Linked DNA regions of Homo sapiens. The protein of the gene in region 2 purifies or fractionates together with the protein of the main gene of each other region. This does not show direct contact. Each region holds a gene or a part of one and is shown on either strand. Other genes may lie near its edges. The genes, in order: GOLPH3L, TNFRSF8, ATP6V1D, TRAIP, KIF3A, EXOC1 and CEP57.

Region 1 (3,500 bases), about 140 Mb from region 2:
ACTTGGATGTTAAGAAATGGAGAAGTAAGGAAACAGTGTATAGTCAGAGAAGCAAGAGAATAAGATAATAACAAAGGCCAATAATGAAGAAAGTTTCAAAGTGATAAAAAGTGTCAAATGACACATATAGGTTAAAAGAGAAAAATAAATCAAAGACTGAAAAGAAGCTGGTGATACCTAAGAATGTAGTTTAAGTGGAGTGCTTAGGATGATAAAGAAGTTGTGAGTGGAAAAATTCAGTAAGAAAATGGATACAGGAGTATGGTTGGAAAGGACTTGCAGTAAATGGAAGGAAACAGAATATTATTGGAGAATAACCAGGGTTAATCAATGACTGACCTGACCCATATGAGTCCCTCTCCCTACATCATACTCTATTTCGTAATTTTTTTTTTTTAGAGACGGAGTCTTGCACTGTCCCCCAGGCTGGAGTGCAGTGGCGGGATCTTGGCTCACTGCAAGCTCCACCTTCCGGGTTCACGCCATTCTCCTGCTTCAGCCTCCCGAGTAGCTGTGACTACAGGCGCCCGCCACAATGCCCCGCTAATTTTTTTTTTAAATATTTCTCGTAGAGATGGGATTTCACCGTGTTAGCCAGGATGGTCTCAATCGCCTGACCTCATGATCCGCCCGCCTCGGCCTCTCAAAGTGCTGGGATTACAAGCGTGAGCCACTGTGCCCGGCTATTTCATAATGTTATAGCTATAGATATAGGAGGAATTTAATCAACAGCATCCTGAGTATGATTTTTCTGCATAAAAAAGGAAGACAAAACCAGGAGCTTCCTATAACTCTTTGGACTATGGATACTTTGATTTCTCCCTCTTGCAATAGGGTAATTAACCTGTTTAGACAATGGAACTGCTGAGTCAGTGATATTTATTTTATCTTACTACTCAAATCTTTCTATTCTTCCCAAATGTACTGTTGGTATTTGCCTTTCCATAAGCCATGGACGTTCACAGAGGATTCAGTACCTTTCTGTCTAGTAGTCGCTTCTTACGCATGGTCGGGGGTTCCAGATAGATTCGACCCCGCATGGCCAGCTCTATCAGGATGCCCCCTCGCAGGCCTGATGATATGCAGTCATTCCAGAAAGATGTGTACCCCTAGGAAAGGAGAAAAGAGAAGAGAAAGAATGTTTTGAGAGGAATACTGACTTCCAGCAGGCACCCTAAGAACAGGCCGCTTTGTTGTGATTCGTTTCACATCATACTACATGAACTCAAAGTATAGAGTAAGAGGATGTTTCTTTAATCCTCTTAAACACCCCCAAATATGATTTTCTGTCTGACTTCAAGATCTTTAGTGAATTTCCATGGTTTGCTGTTAGTCAATAAATGATGTGCAATTTTTTTTTTTGAGACAGGGTCTCGCTTTTTCCCCCAGGCTGAAATGCAGTGGCATGATCATGGCTCACTGCAGCCTTGACCTCCTGGGCTCAAGCAATCCTTCCACCTCAGCCTCCTGAGTAGCTGGGACTACAGGTATGTGCCACCATGCCTGGCTGTTTTTAAAAAAAATTTTTTTGTAGAGACAAGGTCTTGCTATGTTGCCTACGCTGGTCTCGAACTCCTGGCCTCAAGCTATCCTCCCACCTTGGCCTCCGAAAGTGTTGGGATTACAGACATGAGTGACTGCACCTGGTTTGACATGCAAAATTTTAATTTTTGAGGAGAATTTTGGCTTTTTTGAAGTCTGTTTCCATGACACAAAATTTCAGAGTGGGGTAAAATAAGTCAGAAAAAAGTAAAAAGCATTTGAGCTTTTAATCCTCCTAGATATGTATTAATTTGAAGTTCTTTTTTCTTTTTTTTGAGATGGAGGCTTGCTCTGTCGCCCAGGCTGGAGTGCAGTGACGTGATCTTGGCTCACTGCAACCTCCGCCTCCCAGGTTCAAGCGATTCTCCTGCCTCAGCCTCCTGAGTAGCTGGGATTACAGGTGTGCACTGCCACACCCAGCTAATTTTTGTATTTTTAGTAGAGACGGGATTTCACTATGTTGGTCAAGCTGGTCTCAAACTCCTGACCTCGTCATCCACCAGCCTCAGTCTCCCAAAGTGCTGGGAATACAGGAGTGAGCCACCGTGCCCAGCCAATTTGAAGTTCTTTTGATGGGAGGTATAATAGAAACCCACTGTCATTAAGTGCCTTGGTTATGTTACTTAAACTTTCTGAAGTACATTGTCCTCATCTATAAAATGCAGACACCAATATATATTTTCATAAGATTGTTATGAGGGTTACATGAGATACAATATATAAGAAAGCATTTAGTATAGTGCCTGGCATATAGCAGGCACTTAAAATGTTAGCTCCCCTTCCCTTTGTATAGGGAATATACGTATAAGAGAGCCACTGGTATTGTCTAACAGCAGTAACGTTTAATTACTAATGTCTATTGAATACTTATTATATACTAGATATGTGCTAATACTTATTATGTACTAGATTTGTGCTAAGCTTTTTACATGCATTATCTGATTATATCTTCACAACAACCCTATAAAGGAAGTACTACTACTACCCACACATTAAAGATGAGAAAACTAAGGCTTACAGAGGTTATACAGCATAACAGAGGTCACGAAGCTAAATAGAGAAATTTTTAAGTGGTTGTTTTTTTGGTGGTGTTTTACTGATAGATCATAGTTGTGCATATTTTGGGGTTACTTTTTTTTTTTAAGAGACAGGCGGGGTCTTGCTCCATTATCCAGGCTGAAATGCAGTGGGGCCATCATAGCTCACTGTAGACTTGAACTCCAGGGCTCAAACAATTGTCCTGCCTCAGCCTCCCAAGTAGCTCAGACTACAGGCATGAGACACTGCACCTAGCTATAATAACTATTTAAAAAATTTTTTAATTCAATTTTCCTCTTTATTGGCTTGGAAGTTATGTACTTTTAGAAGTTATCCTTGAAATTTTAACATGCATGATACATTAATTTAAAATTAACATAAAACCTAAATTTTAAATATTAATATTTTAACCACTCTTTTAGTTGTCCAGTATTTTTTTTTAGCCTCATAAATTAGATATCATCATCATCATTATTATTTTATACAGGTAGCACTTGTTTAGATTTACACAGGTGCTTACGAATTTCTTTGCTCACCGTTCCTTCCTGTATCTCAGACTTCCTTTCTGGCACCATTTTTCTTCTTCCTAAAGTAGAATTTCCTTAAGTGAAAGTCTGTTGGAGGCAGTTTCTATTTTGCTTATCTGAAATGTCTTTGTATTTCACCATCATCCTTGAAAGATAGTTTCTCTGGACATAAAATTCCAGGTTGATCATTCCAGGTTATCACATTGAAGATAGTATGCCCTCTTCTTCCAGCTTCTAATATAGCAGTGAGAAATCTATCTTTCTTATTGATTGTGGTTTTTTTGTAGGTGGTGTATCTTTTCTTTGGTCCTTTAAGATCTTCTCTTTTGGTGTTTTGCAGTTTTACTATAACATGACTGTGCATGAATTTATTTATTCTGTTTGGTATATGTT
Region 2 (3,500 bases):
TTTTTGTATTTTTAGTAGAGATGGGGTTTCACTCTGTTGGCCAGGCTGGTCTGGAACTCCTGGCCTCAAGGTGATCTGCCTGCCTTGGCCTCCCAAAGTACTGGGATTATAGGCATGAGCCACCATGCCCAGCCTGGGCAGTCTTTTGTAACAAACTGAAGCTTTTGAAATGGTAGCTTTTAGTAAGTTTTATTTGAAAAGTATGTATTTTGGGAAATACCATCAAAGGCTTCTTCAGAATTCCTAAGAAGTCCTAACTGGAACTTCTGAGTCCACACTGAGTACAGTGCCTGGAATCCCAGGGGTGGGGTTCAGAGGGTGTTTGATGGGGAGGAGAAGGAAGTACCAGGCTCCCAGGCAGCTGGCTCAGGTGTGGGCTGCCCTCCCCTGGCATGGCCTGCAGGCCTTGCTGGTGAGTGGATCGGGGGCCACCTCCGCCATGGTGGAAAGGGAAGGCCTTGGAGGTTCTCTTGGGCACCCAAGACACAGGCAACCCCCTTGTCCTCCTAATGCCAGCCCAGGGTAGCGTTCCCCCTTCCCATCCAGTTCCCAAGAGGGGTCACACTGGGGTCTGTACATCGTCCCTCTTCCCCTGGGAACCAGGCAAGGGAAGAACCCCTTTCCCCCCAACTTCCTCACCTGCCCTCCCCACATAGCCAAGATGAATTCCCTGGACTCTGGAGCTCTGGGGAGGGGGCAGGAAATCCATGCAGCCCTTGGAAGCCACCCCCACAGCCTGGGGAGTAGGCAGCCTGTGATGGGGGCAGAGCCAGAGCGGGGCAGACCCCTCATGGCCGGCTCTGAAGTTTCCAGACCCCTCTTTCACTTCCGAGCTCAGTGGGAGCTGCTTCCTCACCCAGAGCAGCCAATTCCACCGCTTTGAATCCAGTTAATTCCAGATTTCCTGGGGACTCCTGCCCATTTCCCTGAGGAATGTGAGGGGACCAGCCTGTCCCCAGCTGTGGCTCCTTCTCCCTAATCCAGCACCCCCACCCTCACTTCCCTCCCACCTGACCCCACCCGCCTCTCATCTTCTCTGCCCATCCCCCTCTGGGCCTTCTCTCCCCTCCTGGGGTCTCCTCTCTCACCACCCCCGGCCCCCATCTTTTGCCCAGCCCTCTATAGGGCTCCTAGGGCTGGGAGCCCACAAGCCTGATGGAGGTGTGGGGAGTGCTGAGGCCCTGCTCTGTTTTGGGGTCTGTGGGGGCGCCCAGCCCATAGCCTGTCCCGCACTCTGGGCCTTCTCCTCTTGCTGCCGTTTGGCGCACTTCTCTCTTTCCTGGGGGTGTTCAAAACCAGAATAGAAGAACCAGCGTCATGCAATAGGGTTGAGGGTGTGGGGGACTCGAGAACCTTTTTGGGGTTCCTGAATCCGAGGGGTATAACTGCATTACCCAGAAAGGCAGGGGTCCCTGCACCCCCACCCCACCCCAGCTCTCAAGTTCCCTCTTGAGCTTCCCCATTCTGGCCTCCAGAGTCCAGCGCAGAACAGCTGGGAGCCAGCCCACCCTGAGCCAGACACCATCAGCTGGGCGGAGGCCAGGCTTCCCCACTCCCCAGCTCCTCGGGCCACTGAACCTGAGCCCCCATGTCCCCTCTATCAGAAGGCCACACCAGAAGCCCCCACATCAGACTGTGGCGAGGACCGGCCCTCCGTCCAAGCTCCCACCATGTGCTCACAGCACAGCCATGCACGCTGCAGGCAGGAGACCGGCTGTGAGCAGTAAGCCCCGAAATTCACGGCCTGAGCCAGGCTGTCTCAATCATGGGCTGCCGAGACCTATTGAGGGGGCCGGGTTTTCTGCAGGATGTGACAGGCTGGCTGAGTTTGCCCGGACCGAGGGGACTCCCAGGACACGGGACTTGCAGTAGTAGAACCAGGAATGTTCCCGGGCAAGCTGGACAAGTTGGTCACCCCGGGTTTTGGCTGCAGGCACACAGATAGGAGCAGAAAGGGCCACCAGGCGGAGTGGGTGGTTTTTTTTTGGGGGATTTCTCCTAACTACGTGGCGACCTTGGGCAGGTCATTTAACCTCTCCAGGCTTCAGATTCTTACCTGTAAATGGGAATCTTGATGGGGTCCGCCTTGCAGGAGGGCTGGGGACCCAGGAGTGGGGGTGTGGAAACTGCTCAGCTCTGCTGTTTCTGCTCGTGCTCTGGTTACCCACGGCTTTGCCTGTTTTTGTCCACAGTTTGCTTTCTGTCCCACCCTGTCCTCTTCTTCCCTACCCATCCGCAGAGATGTGCTGAGAAAATCCTAAGTACAAGTGGGCTGGTTCTTAACTCCTCAAGGCCCAGCTCCTAGCTGTTCTATTTCCTCTGAGCCCCCAGGATGCCTGTAAGGTACATCAGAGAGGCTGTGCCATCAGCCTGAAGCCACCCGGCAGGTGTACCAGCACTGGGCCTCGGCCCTTCTCTGCCTCTTTGCTCCCATCCTGGCTGGTGCTCTGGCCTCCCTCGCTCACCCATCCTTTTGCCTTGCAGAGAAAATCTACATCATGAAGGCTGACACCGTGATCGTGGGGACCGTGAAGGCTGAGCTGCCGGAGGGCCGGGGCCTGGCGGGGCCAGCAGAGCCCGAGTTGGAGGAGGAGCTGGAGGCGGACCATACCCCCCACTACCCCGAGCAGGAGACAGAACCGCCTCTGGGCAGCTGCAGCGATGTCATGCTCTCAGTGGAAGAGGAAGGGAAAGAAGACCCCTTGCCCACAGCTGCCTCTGGAAAGTGAGGCCTGGGCTGGGCTGGGGCTAGGAGGGCAGCAGGGTGGCCTCTGGGAGGCCAGGATGGCACTGTTGGCACCGAGGTTGGGGGCAGAGGCCCATCTGGCCTGAACTGAGGCTCCAGCATCTAGTGGTGGACCGGCCGGTCACTGCAGGGGTCTGGTGGTCTCTGCTTGCATCCCCAACTTAGCTGTCCCCTGACCCAGAGCCTAGGGGATCCGGGGCTTGTACAGAAGAGACAGTCCAAGGGGACTGGATCCCAGCAGTGATGTTGGTTGAGGCAGCAAACAGATGGCAGGATGGGCACTGCCGAGAACAGCATTGGTCCCAGAGCCCTGGGCATCAGACCTTAACCACCAGGCCCACAGCCCAGCGAGGGAGAGGTCGTGAGGCCAGCTCCCGGGGCCCCTGTAACCCTACTCTCCTCTCTCCCTGGACCTCAGAGGTGACACCCATTGGGCCCTTCCGGCATGCCCCCAGTTACTGTAAATGTGGCCCCCAGTGGGCATGGAGCCAGTGCCTGTGGTTGTTTCTCCAGAGTCAAAAGGGAAGTCGAGGGATGGGGCGTCGTCAGCTGGCACTGTCTCTGCTGCAGCGGCCACACTGTACTCTGCACTGGTGTGAGGGCCCCTGCCTGGACTGTGGGACCCTCCTGGTGCTGCCCACCTTCCCTGTCCTGTAGCCCCCTCGGTGGGCCCAGGGCCTAGGGCCCAGGATCAAGTCACTCATCTCAGAATGTCCCCACCAATCCCCGCCACAGCAGGCGCCTCGGGTCCCAG
Region 3 (3,500 bases), on a different chromosome or scaffold from region 2:
CTTTCTTTTGGCACTTGTATTTCCTTGCTTCATGTGATATTTAATTAAATCATATAGAATATTAAGTACATTTCATACGAAGAAGTAGAGCATTCTAGAGAGAGTCACCTGTTCACAGAGTGTCATCGTACTCTGGGCATCAGGCAGTATGATTTTCAAAGGGAATAAGGGGCATCAAGCTAGTGAAGTGAAGGTTGGTTAAAAGCTTCCTTTGTAGTTATATTTAGAATAGTATTCTTGTGGGAAACTGTATTTAGTAGCATGCTCCTATAGTGTTTGGGGAGTGAGATAGGCACTTCATGTTTACATTCAATGAAGATTAGTGAATTCATCTTTCCATATTTGTTATTATTCTGAATTATCTCCTTTTGGGGAATTTTATAGGGAAGATATTTTACTCTAATTAAAAATGTTGTCTGACTGGTCCTTTCAGGTTATGAACTGACTGGTTTAGCCAGAGGTGGGGAACAGTTGGCTAAATTAAAGAGGAATTATGCCAAAGCAGTGGAACTACTGGTGGAACTAGCTTCTCTGCAGGTAAGTAGCAAAAGACCTGGAGAACTCCTGTAGTTTGATTTGTAACAGTCAAGTGGAGGAGAGTCAGGTCTTGAGTCAGCATATACTGTGCTTTGTACTTTTAACTGTTCCCATGATCCTATGTAAAGCAAACATAATATTTTGATTTCTGAAGTGATGGCTTTTGTACCATTGTCCCTACTTTTTAAAATTTATGTATTTTTTATTTTTTTGAGATGGAGTTTTACTCTTGTTGCCCAGGCTGGAGTGCAATGGCGCGACCTCGGCTCACTGCAACCTCTGCCTCCTGGGTTCAAGTGATTCTTCTGCCTCAGCCTCCCAAGTAGCTGATTACAGACATGTGCCACCATGCCTGGCTAACTTTTGTATTTTTTGTAGAGACAGGGTTTTGCCATGTTTGTCAGGCTGGTCTCGAACTCCTGACTTCAGGTGATCCACCCGCCTCGGCCTCCCAAAGTGCTAGGATTACAGGCATGAGCCACTGCACCTGGCCCCTACTTTTAATTTAAAAATTTATTTATTTTTCGAAATGGGGTCTCACTGTGTCACCCAGGCTGGAGTGCAGTGGCATAATCCCAGCTCACTGCAACCTTAACCTCCTGGGCTTAAGTGATCCGCCCACCTCAGCCTCCTGAGTAGCTGGGACTATAGGCATGCCCCATCACACCTAGCTAATTTTTGTATTTTTTGTAGAGGTGGGGTTTCACCATGTCGTCCAGGCTGGTCTCGAACTCCTGGGCTCAAGTAATCAGCCCGCCTCATCCTTCCAAAGTGCTGGGATTATAGGTATGAGCCACCACACCCGGCCCCTGCTTCTTCTTGTTAACAAAATGTATGTGCTATGGTACACTCTTGTTTTTTTTGTTTGTTTGTTTGTTTTTTTCTTTGAGACAGAATCTTGCTCTGTTGCCCAGGCTGGAGTGCAGTGTTGCGATCTTGGCTAACTGCAGCCTGGATCTCCTGGGCTCAAGCAGTCTCCCGCCTCAGCCTCCCAAGTAGCTTGGACTACAAGTTTGTGCCACCTCGCCTGGATAATATTTTTGAATTTTTTAGTTGAGATGAGGTCTTGCTACGTTGCCCAGGCTGGTCTCAAACTCCTGGCCTCAAGAAATCCTGCCATCTCAGCCTCCCAAAGTGCTGGAATTATAAGTGTGAGCCACCTCACCCAGCCCAGTTTCACTCTTTGCTAAGTAAGAATAGCAAGTTGATACTAGATTTAAATGTAAATGTAAATAAACATCGTTTGTGCATGGAAGACCATTTTTTCCCCTATGTGGCCAGTTAGTATATATCTAGGTTATTAATGCTTGATTCTTTCTTGTCATTTTTATGTTGTTATTTAGGTGAGACTATAGTAAACAAATTATAATAGTGTCAACTCAAGTAAAGCCTGTTGAAGCAGAAATGATTTGATAAAGGTTTATTGAAAGCCAAATGTGAGGATTGACCCGGGAAGACACCAACAAAGTTGGGTGTGTTCTAGAGTCTGCTACAAGTTGGAAGGCTTTTATGGGAAAGTTTAGGAGAAGGGAGGACTCCTCATACCCAAGTTGTCCTTTTCATTGGCGAGTACAATACAGAGGTCACAATCATTGGCTACAGATTACAAATACAAGCTAAAATGTTCTACATGCAAGTAAATCATGAAGTAAAACTTCATGAATCAGAAACAAATCAGTGTCATTTTCAGCGTCAGTAGGTTGCATATTAATCAGTATGTCAGCAGTCTGAGAAACTTAAGATTTCCTTACTCAGGGACAGGATGTAAACCATGAATCATAAGATCCCTCAATCTGCCCAGGCAGGTTAATTTGGAAACCTACCAAATGTGACATGTAGGTTATCAATAGCATGGAAATAGTGTTAGCCCTATGGAAATCTCACAAGAATTTTGTTTTTGTTTTGTTATGAAGAGACAGGGTCTTACTCTGTCACCCAAGCTGGAGTACAGTGGCACAGTAATAGCTCACTGCAGCCTCAAACGATCCTCCCATCACAGATTACCAAGCAGCTGGGACTACAGGTGCATGCTACTACACCCAGCTAATTTTTAAAATTTATTTCTTGTAGAGGCAAGGTCTCATTGTGTTGCCCAGGCTGGTCTTGAACTCCCAACTTCAAGTGATTCTCCCACCTCAGCCTCCCAAAGTATTGGGGTTATAGGCGTGAGCCATGCGCCCAGCCTAAGAATTTTGTTTTTTAAGCATGCCAAAAAGAAGTTGTCTTGGTTCTCAAATGTTTTCTACAAGTGCAGTCTTAGTGGAGTCAAGTGATCAGGGAATGATTAGGAAGACTTTGTGCTTACATTATTAATTTGTTCTTATTTTAGACTTCTTTTGTTACTTTGGATGAAGCTATTAAGATAACCAACAGGCGTGTAAATGCCATTGAACATGGTGAGTATTAGGTACTGTGAGGTGCTTTGTCACTTGTCCATACCCTCCACTTGTCGTGAAACTGCTAGAATTCAGGGACTGTACTGAAGACTGAAAGATGAATAAGATGCTTCCCTTGCCCACAGTGCAAAGAGAGAAGTGTGTCCATAGTAAAAAAAAAAAGTGTTATGAAGTGTTCTGATAGAAGTACTTGTATGATCTGGGGGAGTTACACACATAGGAAAGTGGTGACTTAAAAATTATGGAATGTTTTCTTCATTTCCAGTTATTCATGCAGTTATTTAAGGGTAGGAATATTTCTCAAGATCCTTAGTGTTTTCTGTAGTTCTTTCTAATGGTTGAGTGATGCAACTTTTTGAGTACATTAAATATTTAACTTTAAATCAGTATAAGCCATTCTCCTTGATTTCTAAAAAATTTCCCATTTGATGCACTTATTTTCCATCTCTTTTATTTCACTATTTAAAAAATATGACTGCTTAGTGTTGATGGTACTTTTTGCTCAATAAACTTAGTTTTTATTAAAGAAACACTCAATTTTAGGTAAGAAAGCAAAATTTGAAGTAA
Region 4 (2,232 bases), on a different chromosome or scaffold from region 2:
TCCAACGCTCCTCAAGTCCTCGGGCACCTCACCATGTCCCAGGCTCTATATGGGGCTGAAGAGCCCAATCAACTCACCACCCACGGGAGGAAAGCCAGTCATGCCCTGATACGAGCAAAAGAAATTTAATGAGCTCAGGCCTAGTCCTGTCTTCCCAGAGAGGGGACACTACCTCCACGAGAGCCTCAGTAAGTTAGCCTTTCAGTAAAGTAGCCCACAAAATCCTCTCAGAACACAGGGCCAAGCCATCTCCCTAGAGAGTGTGTCTAAGAAGGGCCTGGGGCAGAATAGCGCATGGCCCCAGGCCCTGGTCTCCCAATCCCAGCCCCAGAGCCAGAAACTGTATTTCCATCCAATTCCTGGGGAACCCAGCAGCTGGATACCCTCTCCTGGCATTTTCCCTGGTGGGTGAGAAGATGGTGATCTAAGGCTGGCCCTGTGGCTTCTCAAGCCATAAGGACAAGAGTGGGATCAGGGCCTGATGACTGACTCCTCTGCTCCTGCCCTAACGGCCTGTGGTAAGGCTACATGACAACCAAGGCTCCAGGAAGGACGAGCTGAGTTAGGGACTCAGAACTTCACTACCTCCTTCACTACCTCCACAGGCCATGAAGGTGGTGGAAATGTCTCTGAAAGGCCTGGCAGCCTGAAGACCCCAGGTGTCCACCTTCAACCTTTACAGCGGAAGAAGGGCAATGGGAGGAAGCCAGAGTACACAGCAGACACTGACAGGATCCCTGAGGACTACAGCCCACGGGTCCTAGGTTTGTTTCTCATTGCTACCAGGCCTCGCCCTCTACAACAGGGGTGCCCATGCCCCCTGAGGTTTGGGAGGTAGGACAGCCCAGCTGGCTTGCCCTCTTGCTCCCTTCCACCTCCACTGTCTAGCATCTCAGTTTCTTTCTCTTTCTCTTCTTTCTCTCTGTACAAAGTCTTTGAAAAAGAGGAAACCTGCCCAGCCCTTGACCAGCCTCACCTGAACAGTACCTGTATGAATGAGTATAGTCCTTGTCTCCACAGTGAATTACACTTGGCAAAGCTGGCCAAGGAGACAGCCTCCCTTTTTCTGGTCCCACCGTACCCCAGAGCAGGTTCCACCTGCCCCACTGGAATTCCAGACAGCTTCTCATGCTTGCCCCTGTGGGTCACCCCCTTGGGTGGTAAGGCCTTGGGCTCTGTGGTTTGAGATGATCCTCCCTCAGGCATGAGCCTCAGAGGCAAACATAGAAGAGGAAGTTCAGAGTCCCTCGCTCAGGACTCTGGTGGGCAGGCCTTCAAGGTATTGGGAGCACCCTCTCCAGCCCAGACCCACCCCTTCTGGCATCACTGCATTCTCTCTAACTTGCATTCCAATACGTTTGCCTTGAAAGGTGATGGTGAGGAATAATGAGAAAAGAGAAGGGGTTTGCACAGATTGAGTGCTCAGGTGAGGGAACAAGAGGTAGCTGGAACCAAAGCCATGGCCAAGCCTAGGCAACCCTCACTGCCCCATCAGCCACTCAGAGCTAACAGCACAGGGCCTGCAGAGCTGTCTTAGCTATCCCCCTACCAGCCCATGGACAGTGCCAGCGACTATCACTCACTGTGACTTCTCTAGGCAAAGTTTTTCGTAGTAACCATGCTGGGAGCTGGAGGGCCGGGCTGGGGGAGTATCCACATCAAAGGTAGCATTGAGATCAATATCATCACGGAAGGATGGCCGGCGGAGCTTCAGATTCACCTCCACAGGGGCTGGGCTGAAGGCAGAGATGACCTGGTTACTTGGGGCCACAGTGGTAACCCAGGACAACAGCTCCTGAAGCATCAGAGATAACTCAGCTCCAGGGACCTGGAGCCCACTCCTGACTCAAGGCCACCCCTCAAGAGAGCCCTACTCTCGGCCAGGCACAGTGGCTCACGCCTGTAATCCCAGCACTTTGGGAGGCCAAGGCGGGTGGATCAAGCGGTCAAGAGATCAAGACCACCCGGGCTAACATGGTGAAACCCCATCCTACTAAAAATACAAAAATTAGCTGGGTGTGGTGGCTTGTGTCTGTAGTCCCAGCTACTCGGGAGGCTGAGGCAGGAGAATTGCTTGAACTCGGGAGGCAGAGCTTGCGGTGAGCCGAGATCGCGCCACTGCACTCCAGCCTGGGCGACAGAGCAAGACTCCGTCTCAGGAAAAAAAAAAAAAAAAGTTTAAATTTAATTTAATTTAAAAAGCACACAAAACTCCATGTATAGTGCAATTAC
Region 5 (3,500 bases), on a different chromosome or scaffold from region 2:
GGCAGCTTTAAGAAAAACAGCAACAGTTTTTATGTCCAAGGAAATTTATAGTGTGTCAGGGCTTCTTACTCACCAACCTTTATTAAGTACATTTTAGATACTGGGATTAGAAGATGATGTCATTAGACATTTCTTTGGTTTTAGCTTCTGTGGGTTTGATCAAGGAGTTTATTCAGTATTTTAAATCTTCCCCCAAATCTGGCTTTAACTCTTTGCCTTAAGAGTGCTTTGTGTTTGTTTCTTTTACTTAGCCCTTTGAGGTGGACCTTTCTCACGTGTATCTTGCCTATACTGAGGAGAGTCTGCGTCAGTCTTTGATGAAACTAGAAAGACCACGAACTTCAAAGGGGAAAGCAAGGCCAAAGACAGGGAGAAGGTAAGGACTGTCCTTGAATCTGGTAAAACGAAGGCATTGAGGTATTCTAATTAGATACATGTACAGGAAGTTAAAATTTATTTAGTTAAAACATGATACATATTTTGGCTGATTTATTAAAAATCAAATTCCTGGCTGGGCACAGTGGCTCACGCCTGTAATCCCAGCATTTTGGGAGGCCGAGGCAGGTGGATCATTTGAGGTCAGGAGTTTGAGACCAGCCTGGCTAACATAGTGAAACGCTGTCTCTACTAAAAATACAAAAGTTAACCAGGCATGGTGGCGCATGCCTGTAATCCCAGCTACTGGGGAGGCTGAGGCATGAGAATCGCTTGAACCCAGGAGCCGGAGGTTGCAGTTAGCCGAGATCATGAGATCATGCCACTGAACTTCAGCCTGGGTGACAGAGCAAGACTTGGTCTCAAAAAAAAAAAAAAAAAATCAAATTCCTTATGTATTAGAATTTGAGTAAATAAAATCTGGCCAAAGAATTAAGGTCTTCCAACTTCTTAGGCTTCTGAGTAATAGAATTTATTTTTAATTCACTCTGTTATTTCCAAATGTATAATGGGTTTAATTCCTTAATTCTTAGACTAATTCTTCTTATGAAATGCTAATTAATTTGCCTGTTTGGTCTCCCAAGGTATTGTATTCAGCTGGTTAGTTTTTCTGTCAGGTGCCCCAAGAACCTTGATTTCCTCAGTCACCAGCTAAGGAGAACTTCCTTGGACATTTCCCCCTCTCCTTTGGGCACTGGTTTTGACTGTTGGGTAGTCTGCGTGTATCATCACATAAGCTCAGGGAAATCGGGATATGGGAGTCCTGGGCTGGAGCTTATTTTTTTTTCCTTTCCCTTTCCTACATCAAGGACTGTTCAGTTTATTTAAGCTGATTTTAAGACTCTGGGGCTCCTAAAATGTAGGAAATAATAAGCTGCTTTTTTCCCTACTTTGAGTGCATGGACTTTCAAGTTACATGTGGGATGAAGTTGTACGGTTTTGATATCTTTGTGTTACATAATCTCATAGACATGACTTAACACTTATAAATTTGGGATGGTTGAACTCAGGGTTGGGCAAACAGTTGAATATTAAAAATGTACAAATTTTTACATTCTTTAGCATTTAGGTGAGGGGTTAAAAACTTTCCTATACCAACACATGCCAAGCATATTGTAGTGAAGCAAATCAGTTCTAAGAAACATGAGTCCCTTTAGATGTATCTTTTTTTCCATTTTTAATAAAATGACAGTGCAAGTGTGATGATAAATGGTAAGACATTTGTCCCCAGCGTAGGAGAAAAATTGGCAGTGGTGAGCAGTCCTGTCTAAAGTGAGTGGCTGCTATTCTCTTCCTAGTTATCTATGGAAATAGAGGGCTCATTGTTTCTGGATCTTCTGTTTTCTTTTCTTTTCTTTTTTTTGAGATGGAGTCTCACTCTGTTGCCCAGGCTGGAGTGCCCTGAGTAGCTGGGATTACTGGCACCTGCCACCATGCCCAGTTAATTTTAGTATTTTTACTAGAGATGGGGTTTTGCCCTGTTGGCCAGGCTGGTCTCGAACCCCTGACTTCAGGTGATCTGCCCACCTCAGCCTCCCAGAGTGTTATGATTACAGGCATGAGCCACCGTGCCTGGCCTGGATCTTCTCTTTTCTAAGGAAAAGCCAGAAATTCGAATTATTTACTTGAGATCTGTCAATTTTACTTTTTTTTTTTTTAACTATATGGACCCTAAAGCAAATGAATAAATAATATGATATTTGAATACGTTTTCCAGAACATCCATTTTAAGATACGTCATTTTTTTAGTTTAACATTAAAAAAATCGTGTGGCCCAACATTATATGAGCCAAACTCACCATCTCTGTATACTGGAATTGGCCTGCTATAACCATGGAAACCCTAAGAAAATGGTAGCCATAAACATGGACAAATACATGCATTAAATGGTTTATTGATGCTATGTTACATTATATGATATGTTCAATGTGATGTTCCTTGTTAGAAACACATAGTTAGATGGGCTAGGCAAAATTGCAATAAATATAATACATTAATGTAGCATTTCCATAAGTCCCTACATATGCATCAGGTATTGCCTGAGATGATTTGTTTCTGATTTCCTCTGAATCCACTTGCACCTTTTGAGTACCTCAGAAGAGATAATCAGGAAGTTCAAATCTGGCAAGCATGCAGCTCACTTGGCCTGGCCACATGACCTAGTCTAGTCTTGGAAATTATCACCTGTCCTATCCTTCACTATCTGGCATAATGGGGTGGGCTGCCATCCTCTTGCATTTACTTTAAGTTAGCTTCCCGTAGCCTGAAAAGGCGAGCATTAATTGAACACTTACCATGGTCAAACGTGTCAAATTTTGGCTTGTTTCCAGACTATACAGGCCACCCCATAGTTTCTATATAATGTTAAATGTTTGCATTTCAGTCTTTTAGGAAAGCATTCATGATTGCTTTTTTTCTTCTCCAAACAGAAAGCGTTCTGCAAAGCCTGAAACTGTAATTGACTCTTTACTGCAGTAAATGTTACAGACTTAAAGTCACAATAAAAATTAGTGATATTCTCATGCCTGGACAAAATCTTTAATTAAAACAGTGAAGACTTCTCTATAATTTCAATTAATGGAAGTTGTAGATCAATGAATAAGACTGGAAATAATAATTTGCTTAAGAACTTTTAGTCTACATATATTAATATAACATTAAAATTGTACAACTGGTGATTGTTCAAATTGTTGTACTACTACTCTTCAATTGTACTGTGCAGGGAAGTTGGGGGAACAGTTCATACTATAGAGAGTTACAGTTTAGATGTATGTGTAAATCGATTAGCTATTTATCCAACTACTGTATATTTAGGTAACTAGAATTTCAAAATAGAAAAAAAAAAACTGTGTCCTGTTTTGCACATAGAAAGAAGCAGATCAGATTGTCCTATGTTGCGCTGTTATATATGAATGTTTGGACTGTACATCTAAAGAATGATTCCGTCCTAACACCCACCCAGCCTGTTTGAACACATTCTAATTGTCTAACATTTGTTGCATTTTAAGTATGAGATGACTGATCTTATGAATGTTTTGTAGAAAATGTTATAATTTAACAGTCTT
Region 6 (3,469 bases), on a different chromosome or scaffold from region 2:
TTTCATGTCCCACTTTACATTTAATATTGTTTTTTCCTAAATATAAATTTTAATGGCTGCATAATATTTCACACAATGACTGAACCACAATTATTATTCATTCCTCTAGTACTAGATATTTAACATCCCACTCCCCCTTCTTTTTTTGGACTTGGCAAATCTAGTGAGACTTTAGAAAATCTACTATAAATATATTTGTCATAAATTTTTTTTGTATATAAGTATTTACCCATCTTACTGATTAAATTTCCAGGACTATAATTACTCTGTTGAAGAGCATAACTTTAAGTATTTGAAAGATTCTTCAGTATATATACAAACTGCTTCCTAGGAAAGCTCAACCAATTTATATTTCTGTCAACAGTGTATGAGGTTGCTACTTCACTATACCATCATAAGCATTATGACAATTTATAACAATAGTTGCCAGAGTAAAAAAAGTTTGTCATTTTATTTTATAATTCTTTGGCTATAAATAAGGTTAACCTGCTTTTATATGTTTAGTAGTGATTCAGCCCCTTGCCCCATTTATAAATTGGGGTCTTAGTGCTTTTCTTATTGATTTTAGTAAGATTTTTTATATTAAATATACTGACTCTGTTATATTATTGTAACTATTATTCCCAGGTCTTCTTTTATATATATACTTTTATTGACTGGCATAACTGTATTTGAGCACGATACAAAGAATTAATGCTGACAAACCCCATTCCCTCTCATTACTTTTTTCTAAAATTTTCTTAGTGATTATTCATTAAATTATCATTCTTTGAGAAGTTATTCTTAGTGCTTTAAAAATTTTGTTTTTACATAAGCTCTTAATTGGTAGACAGGAAATACATTGTTTTTCAGTATATTTGCTTTAAATTTTGTCACTTGACCAACACCAGTAATTTCAACATATCATATACAGGTGGTGATAATCTCGTCTCTGTTTTCCATATCTCTTATTTATGTTTCAGGTCTTGTTGAACTGGCTAGTGCTTCAACAACAATGCTAAATAATAAAGGATCTAACAATATTTCTGCTTTAAATTGATTTCAGAGGGAATGTCTCTAACGTTGCAGTTAAGTATCATGTAAGCTTTAGGCCTGAGATAGATCTTTTATCCAGTTAAAGGAATATTTGTCTGTTCTTAAGTTTTATAAGGAATTAGTTCTGCATTTGATTAAATGTCTTTCAAGTATTTCTTTGAATTGTTGACAGCAGATACATATTCTTTTTTTTTGTTTTGTTTTGAGACTGAGTCTTGCTCTGTCGCCCAGGCTGGAGCGCAGTGGTGTGATCTCCACTCATTGCAACCACCACCTCCTAGGATCAAGTGATTCTCCTGCCTCAGCCTCCCAAGTAGCTAGGACTACAGGAGCGTGCCACCACGCCCAGTTAATTTTTTTTTACATTTTTAGTAAAGACGGGGTTTCACCTTGTTAGCTAGGATGGTCTCGATCTTCTGACCTCGTGATCCGCCTGCCTTGGCCTCCCAAAGTGCTGGGATTACAGGTGTGAGTCACCGCGCTATTTTACTCTAACTTCAAGTTAAGAGCTTATAAAAGATAACTATATTGCAGACAAAGTTAGTTTAAAAGGTTCATTTAAGCTTTCACTATCTTGTAAAGTTCCCTAAAATCATCATTTCTTAACTTTAATTAACAGACTTACTCTGGGAAATGACTCAAGTAAGGAAAAAAAAAGAAGGGAAAGAAAAGTAAAAGGCAATGTAGAAAGCAATTTTTGGTTTTTCTTTTATCTTAATAATATTTTTGAAATTTCCACCTAGACATTGTAAACTTGGTCATTTATAAAGTAAGAAATGGGAAAGAGTAACGGCAAAGCCTAATCTAGGTTCATCCCCCAGCTTTGTAATTTATAAGCTATTATGATGTCGGGCAAGTTTTTTTACTTTCAGTTTCTTCATTTGTGAAATGGGGATAATATTATCTTAGCTTACACATCATTGTTTATAAGAATTAAAAGAAATAATGCATAATAGAATACTAGTACAATTATCATTAAAATATAGTAGATAAATAATGTATAAAAATAATGTACAGAAAGAAGAAATAAAATATATAGCATCTAGCAGTGTCTGGCACACTGGCAGCTTCAATAACTGAGTCCCCTGTGCACCAACACATGAGAAAATTTAAGATAAATGTCTGCAGGTTATTCATATGCAAACTTATGTGTATAGGTTCAAAAGTAGGAAAAATACTGAATGAAAATATATTTACATTTAGTTTTTCAAGAGGTTGTCCTAAAGAGTAAATGACATAAGACTGAAGGTGATCTGTGTATTTTTGTTTGGCTTCTTTTTTTTCTGCTTCTAGACATGAGATTTTCAATCGAGAAAGAGTTGCAAAAATATGGTGAAAGTTTTCCATCATAACCACATCCCTGGGGGTCTTCTGGCTTTCATTTGCTACTTTCTCCACTAAAACCAAAACAGAAAAAATAAAATAACATCTCTGAGTATGACCATATTTAGCTATAAACATTTATACTATTAATTTTTTTTCATTTGTAAGTTTAAGAATTAAGCACATTTCTGGACTTAATACAATATATTGTAATGGGAGTCTTCAGATCTACCTAATCATAATAAAAAGTCATCCTAAAACAGTCCCATGTGTATATGGAAATTCAGTATATAATAAAAGTAGCTTTTCAGATCAATGGAGAAATGATGAATTATTCAAAATGTGTTAGGACAACCGGCTGGACCATTTTAATATATGAAATTTAAGTTCCTACTTTACATCTTGCAGTCAAATTCTAAATTGCTAAATTATTTAAAATGTAAAAAGCAAACAAATAATACAATCATAAGTACTAAAGAAAATATAACTAATAGAAAAATAATAATTTTGCAATAGTGTGACCTTGCTAAGAATGGCCCAAAATTTAGAAGACTGTTAAGGGGAAAGATAAATAAATTGGAGATAAAATTTGAAAATTCATGTAAAGTAAAGACACCATATACAAAATCAATGAAATGCAAAATAAAATAGTGAGATAATTTATAGCCTATCAGGTTGACAAAGAATAAAAAGATTGGTAATACCTAGTAAAACCCAGCATTGGTACAGCTGTAATGCAACTGCTCATAGCACTAAACTGACATAAGCTTTCTGTATCACAATTTGGGAAAAGACTTGAGATACATAAATCCTTTGACCCAGTAATTCCATTTCTAGTAATTTACCCTAAAGAAATTATTTGACAAGTATACAAAGATAGATAAACTAAAAAAATCCTAAATGTTTATTAATAGAAGATTTGGTAAATGGATAATGACATATGGATGACTATGCAATCATTAAAAATGATTATGTTTATCTATATTAACTAACTAAGAAAGATACTAAGATTATATAGAGTCCAGCAGCTTCAAAAATAGTGTGTCAGGTATGACAACACTTTTATATTAAAGAAAGCACACATACAATATGCCCATATATAGAAGAGAGG
Region 7 (3,500 bases), on a different chromosome or scaffold from region 2:
TTTTGTGTCTGGTAATGTAGTAGATGCCATTTTTGAAAAGAATATATTTAAGCAATGGTTTGGGGTTAGATACATTGCATTTAACTCGTTAGATAGAATTTATGGAGTAACTACAAATACTGGAGATAATGTGTTCCACGCTGAAGAAGGGACAAATTATAACAGAAGGTCAAGATAAAATGAGAGACTGGTATTTATTTAAAATATTTGACAAACGTTGATAGATTGGTTCAAGACATAGTTATACAGCTGTAATATGTTTTTCAGTTAGATACTACCATTGGTTTTTACAGGCTTTTTACATGACACATCTGAAATCTGAGTCATAGCTTTTATTTCTACAGCATTAACTTGAGGCTCTCATTTTTCCTAGTTGCAGACTGGTCTAGAAACAAATAGACTTATCTTTGAAGATAAGGCAACTCCGTGTGTTCCCAATGCAAGAAGAATTAAAAAAAAGAAGTCAAAACCACCAGAAAAGGTGTGAAGACAGAACCAAATCAGGCAAAATGCTGATTACTTGGTATAGTTTATGTCAAAACACCCATAAACTGTGTGGTGTACTACAACCTTGAGAGAGTAAATCTTTCATTCTCAATTTCTTCATTCAGAAGGTGGAGATAAGTAATACCTACTCCTAAATTTTTATCCTGATAGTGAGAAAATATATAAGCATTTTGGAACTACAGAACACCATACAAAATTAGCATTATTAGTACTGCATTATCTTGTGCTCTTACAATGTTTTGTGTATATGTATACTGATTTTCTACTTAGAATGTAACTGTTGTTTTGTCAAGTGCTTTTTTCCCCCCAGCCTTTCCTAGGCTAGGATATATGCTAACAAGTACTATTAGGAGCTGGCTTGTGATCATAATGCCAACTATAGATAAGGCAAGTAGTAGCCTAGTAGTTAACTGAAGTTTCAAGTTAGTCATGTATAGTCAGTTTTTATTATCATGTGAATAAAATAAAATTGTTTTCCTTTTCTTTTCATTCAGAAAAGTTCTAGGAACTATTTTGGTGCACAACCACATTATAGATTATGCTTGGGTGATATGCCATTTGTAGCTGGGAAGGTGAGTTGGTCAAACTCCGGATTCTTTTTATACAACATTGATCCCTGAATTAAGTCCCTGCATCTGCAAGTATGTCTACAAATGGAAGGAACATTTTTCTGTGCCTTTACCAGTGTGTGGATCACAGTGATGTGAAAATGAGATGTAGGGAGGTTTTTGGGGATTAGGGAAGCAAGGAAGAGATGGGGAGGATACCTTAAAGTAGATAAAGTATATGTGGAAAGGAAGTGATAAAACAGAGACCCTAAGTTGAAGAAGGTGTTGTTTCAGATAGGGGTCAAGGAAATAAGAAATAGTATGTTTGTAGCATTGGATTTTTAGTATCAATCCTGTTGAGTTACATTTAGATATAGGTAGATATTCGAATAAGCACGTAGCACATTCTGCTTGTCCTCACATCCAGATCATTTCTAGGACTAATTCTCCAAGAAGCAGTCATACGTACACTTGAATCTTCAGTTTCTTCAGCACTTGAATGTAAAGCTGTATTGTCATATATCAAGTACTGAGTGAAGTGCCTAAAACTGTGCTAGTTGACACTACTTTATAAGCTGTTTGTGTTGCTGGTGGTTTTATATTTAGATTCCAACTAGATTGTTATTCTGGCATCTTGGGAAGTAAATGTTCTTCTGAATTTTGTATTTGTTTATATTTATTTATTTTAAACCCCTAGTAAATTCGCAGTGAAATCATGGGGAATATAATAAATTAGTGGTGACAAGCATTTGAAAAAGGTACAGTTGACCCTTGAACAACATGAGTCCGAACTCTGTGTGGGTCTACTTACAGGCAGATTTTTTTTTTCAATAAGTATCTTGGAAAATTTTTTGGAGATTTTTGGCAATTTGAAAAAACTTGCAAACTATAGCTTAGAAATATCAGAAGTTAAGAAAAAGTTGGTATGTCATAGATGCATAAAATTGACTATGTCAATACTAGTGCATTTTATCATTTACTACCATAAAATATACACAAGTTTTTTTTAATTATAATTTATCAAAACAATTTGCACACAGACTACGTGACGCCATTCACAGTCCAGAGAAATGTAAACAGAGATAAAGATGCAGTATGAAATCATAACTGTATAAAATTAACTGTAGTACATACTGTACGACTGATAATTTTGTAGCCACCTTCTGTTGCCATTGTGATGAGCTCAAGGGTTGGGAGTATTCACTTAAAATGCCACGTGACGCTAATCATCTTCAAATGAGCAGTTCATCTCTCCAGTCAATTGTGTATCACAGTAAAAAGTGTTCTCTAGCAGTTCCATATTTTCCATCATGTTTAGCACAATACAGTAAATAATTTGAATAATATCATGGGACCCATATCAAGTGCTACTAATGATGGTGGAAGTGCTCCCAAGAAGCAGACAAAAGTCATGACATGACAAGAAAAAGTTGCATTGCTTGATATGTACCATAGATTGAGGTCTGCAGCTGCGGTTGTCCACCATTTCAAAATAAATGAATCCAGCTGAAGGCCTATTGTAAAAAAAAAAAAAAAAAAAAAAATGATCCCGGCATGTTGGCGTGCACCTGTGGTCCCAGCTACTCAGGAGGCTGACAGAAGAGGATCACTGTAGCCCAGGAGTTCGAGACTGTAGTAAGCGATGATGGCACCACTGTACTCCAGCATAGGCAACAGAGTAAGATCCTCTTTAAAAAATTTTTTTTAAAAAAAAAAGGAAATTGTGAATCTGTCACTGCAGCTACTCTAGCAGGTGCCAAAACCTTGTGCTTTTTGCAAAATAGCTTTTTATCTCATTGAAAATGCAGCTTTTATGTGGATGCAGGATTGCTATAAGAAAGGCATACTTGTAGACTCTAATATGATTTGAGAAAAAGGAAAGTCATTATATGACAACTTAAAAGGAAGGTGAGGTATCTAAAGCTGGAGAATTTAATTCCAGCAAAGGATGGCTTGATAATTTTAGAGGTTTGGCTTTAAAAATGTCAAGATAGGAGAAGCAGCTTCTGCTGACCAAGAGGCAGCAGATGAATCCCAAGATACCATTAAGAAAATCATTGAGGAGAAAGGGTATCTTCCTGAACAGGCTTTTAATGCAGACAGAAGTACCCTATTCTGGAAAAACATGATGCCACGAAGGATATTTATAAGTAAGGAGGACAAGTCAGCACCAGGATTTAAGGAAAGAGGAGACGGGCTAAATCTACTATTTTGTGAAAACACAATCCGATTTACAATCAGGACTGCCCTTATCTATAAAGCTGCTAATCCCTGAGCCTTCAAGGGGAAATATACCCAACTGCCAGTCTTTGGGTTTACAACAAGAATGACCCTTTGAGAACCCTTTTTCTAAACTGGATTTAGAAAAAACATTGATCCATCAATCCTTTGTCCCTGAAGTCAGGAAGTAATTTGCCAGTAAGAGACTGCCTTTTAAAGTCTTTT

The links.
Region 1: the proteins of TNFRSF8 (region 2) and GOLPH3L purify together in Homo sapiens (affinity purification with mass spectrometry; 2 studies listed by BioGRID and IntAct, with this or other methods). This does not show direct contact.
Region 3: the proteins of TNFRSF8 (region 2) and ATP6V1D purify together in Homo sapiens (affinity purification with mass spectrometry; 2 studies listed by BioGRID and IntAct, with this or other methods). This does not show direct contact.
Region 4: the proteins of TNFRSF8 (region 2) and TRAIP purify together in Homo sapiens (affinity purification with western blotting, with the first as the bait; one study listed by BioGRID). This does not show direct contact.
Region 5: the proteins of TNFRSF8 (region 2) and KIF3A purify together in Homo sapiens (affinity purification with mass spectrometry; 2 studies listed by BioGRID and IntAct, with this or other methods). This does not show direct contact.
Region 6: the proteins of TNFRSF8 (region 2) and EXOC1 purify together in Homo sapiens (affinity purification with mass spectrometry; 2 studies listed by BioGRID and IntAct, with this or other methods). This does not show direct contact.
Region 7: the proteins of TNFRSF8 (region 2) and CEP57 purify together in Homo sapiens (affinity purification with mass spectrometry; 2 studies listed by BioGRID and IntAct, with this or other methods). This does not show direct contact.

The regions. Positions count from the first base shown.
Region 1 is NC_000001.11:150,662,655-150,666,154, forward strand, and holds part of GOLPH3L (Golgi phosphoprotein 3-like), read right to left. Parts: intron 1,110-3,500; coding exon 978-1,109; intron 1-977. UniProt on the Homo sapiens protein: Phosphatidylinositol-4-phosphate-binding protein that may antagonize the action of GOLPH3 which is required for the process of vesicle budding at the Golgi and anterograde transport to the plasma membrane.
Region 2 is NC_000001.11:12,139,803-12,143,302, forward strand, and holds part of TNFRSF8 (tumor necrosis factor receptor superfamily member 8 isoform 1 precursor), read left to right. Parts: intron 1-2,484; coding exon 2,485-2,729; 3' UTR 2,730-3,500. UniProt on the Homo sapiens protein: Receptor for TNFSF8/CD30L. May play a role in the regulation of cellular growth and transformation of activated lymphoblasts. Regulates gene expression through activation of NF-kappa-B.
Region 3 is NC_000014.9:67,342,805-67,346,304, reverse strand, and holds part of ATP6V1D (V-type proton ATPase subunit D), read left to right. Parts: intron 1-433; coding exon 434-537; intron 538-2,866; coding exon 2,867-2,933; intron 2,934-3,500. UniProt on the Homo sapiens protein: Subunit of the V1 complex of vacuolar(H+)-ATPase (V-ATPase), a multisubunit enzyme composed of a peripheral complex (V1) that hydrolyzes ATP and a membrane integral complex (V0) that translocates protons.
Region 4 is NC_000003.12:49,830,333-49,832,564, forward strand, and holds part of TRAIP (E3 ubiquitin-protein ligase TRAIP), read right to left. Parts: intron 1,737-2,232; coding exon 1,584-1,736; intron 1-1,583. UniProt on the Homo sapiens protein: E3 ubiquitin ligase required to protect genome stability in response to replication stress.
Region 5 is NC_000005.10:132,696,047-132,699,546, reverse strand, and holds part of KIF3A (kinesin-like protein KIF3A), read left to right. Parts: intron 1-251; coding exon 252-376; intron 377-2,864; coding exon 2,865-2,913; 3' UTR 2,914-3,500. UniProt on the Homo sapiens protein: Microtubule-based anterograde translocator for membranous organelles. Plus end-directed microtubule sliding activity in vitro. Plays a role in primary cilia formation. Plays a role in centriole cohesion and subdistal appendage organization and function.
Region 6 is NC_000004.12:55,898,648-55,902,116, reverse strand, and holds part of EXOC1 (exocyst complex component 1), read right to left. Parts: intron 2,433-3,469; coding exon 2,233-2,432; intron 1,283-2,232; exon of another isoform or gene 963-1,282; intron 1-962.
Region 7 is NC_000011.10:95,821,498-95,824,997, forward strand, and holds part of CEP57 (centrosomal protein of 57 kDa), read left to right. Parts: intron 1-373; coding exon 374-481; intron 482-487; exon of another isoform or gene 488-837; coding exon of another isoform or gene 838-894; intron 895-1,001; coding exon 1,002-1,079; intron 1,080-3,500. UniProt on the Homo sapiens protein: Centrosomal protein which may be required for microtubule attachment to centrosomes. May act by forming ring-like structures around microtubules. Mediates nuclear translocation and mitogenic activity of the internalized growth factor FGF2, but that of FGF1.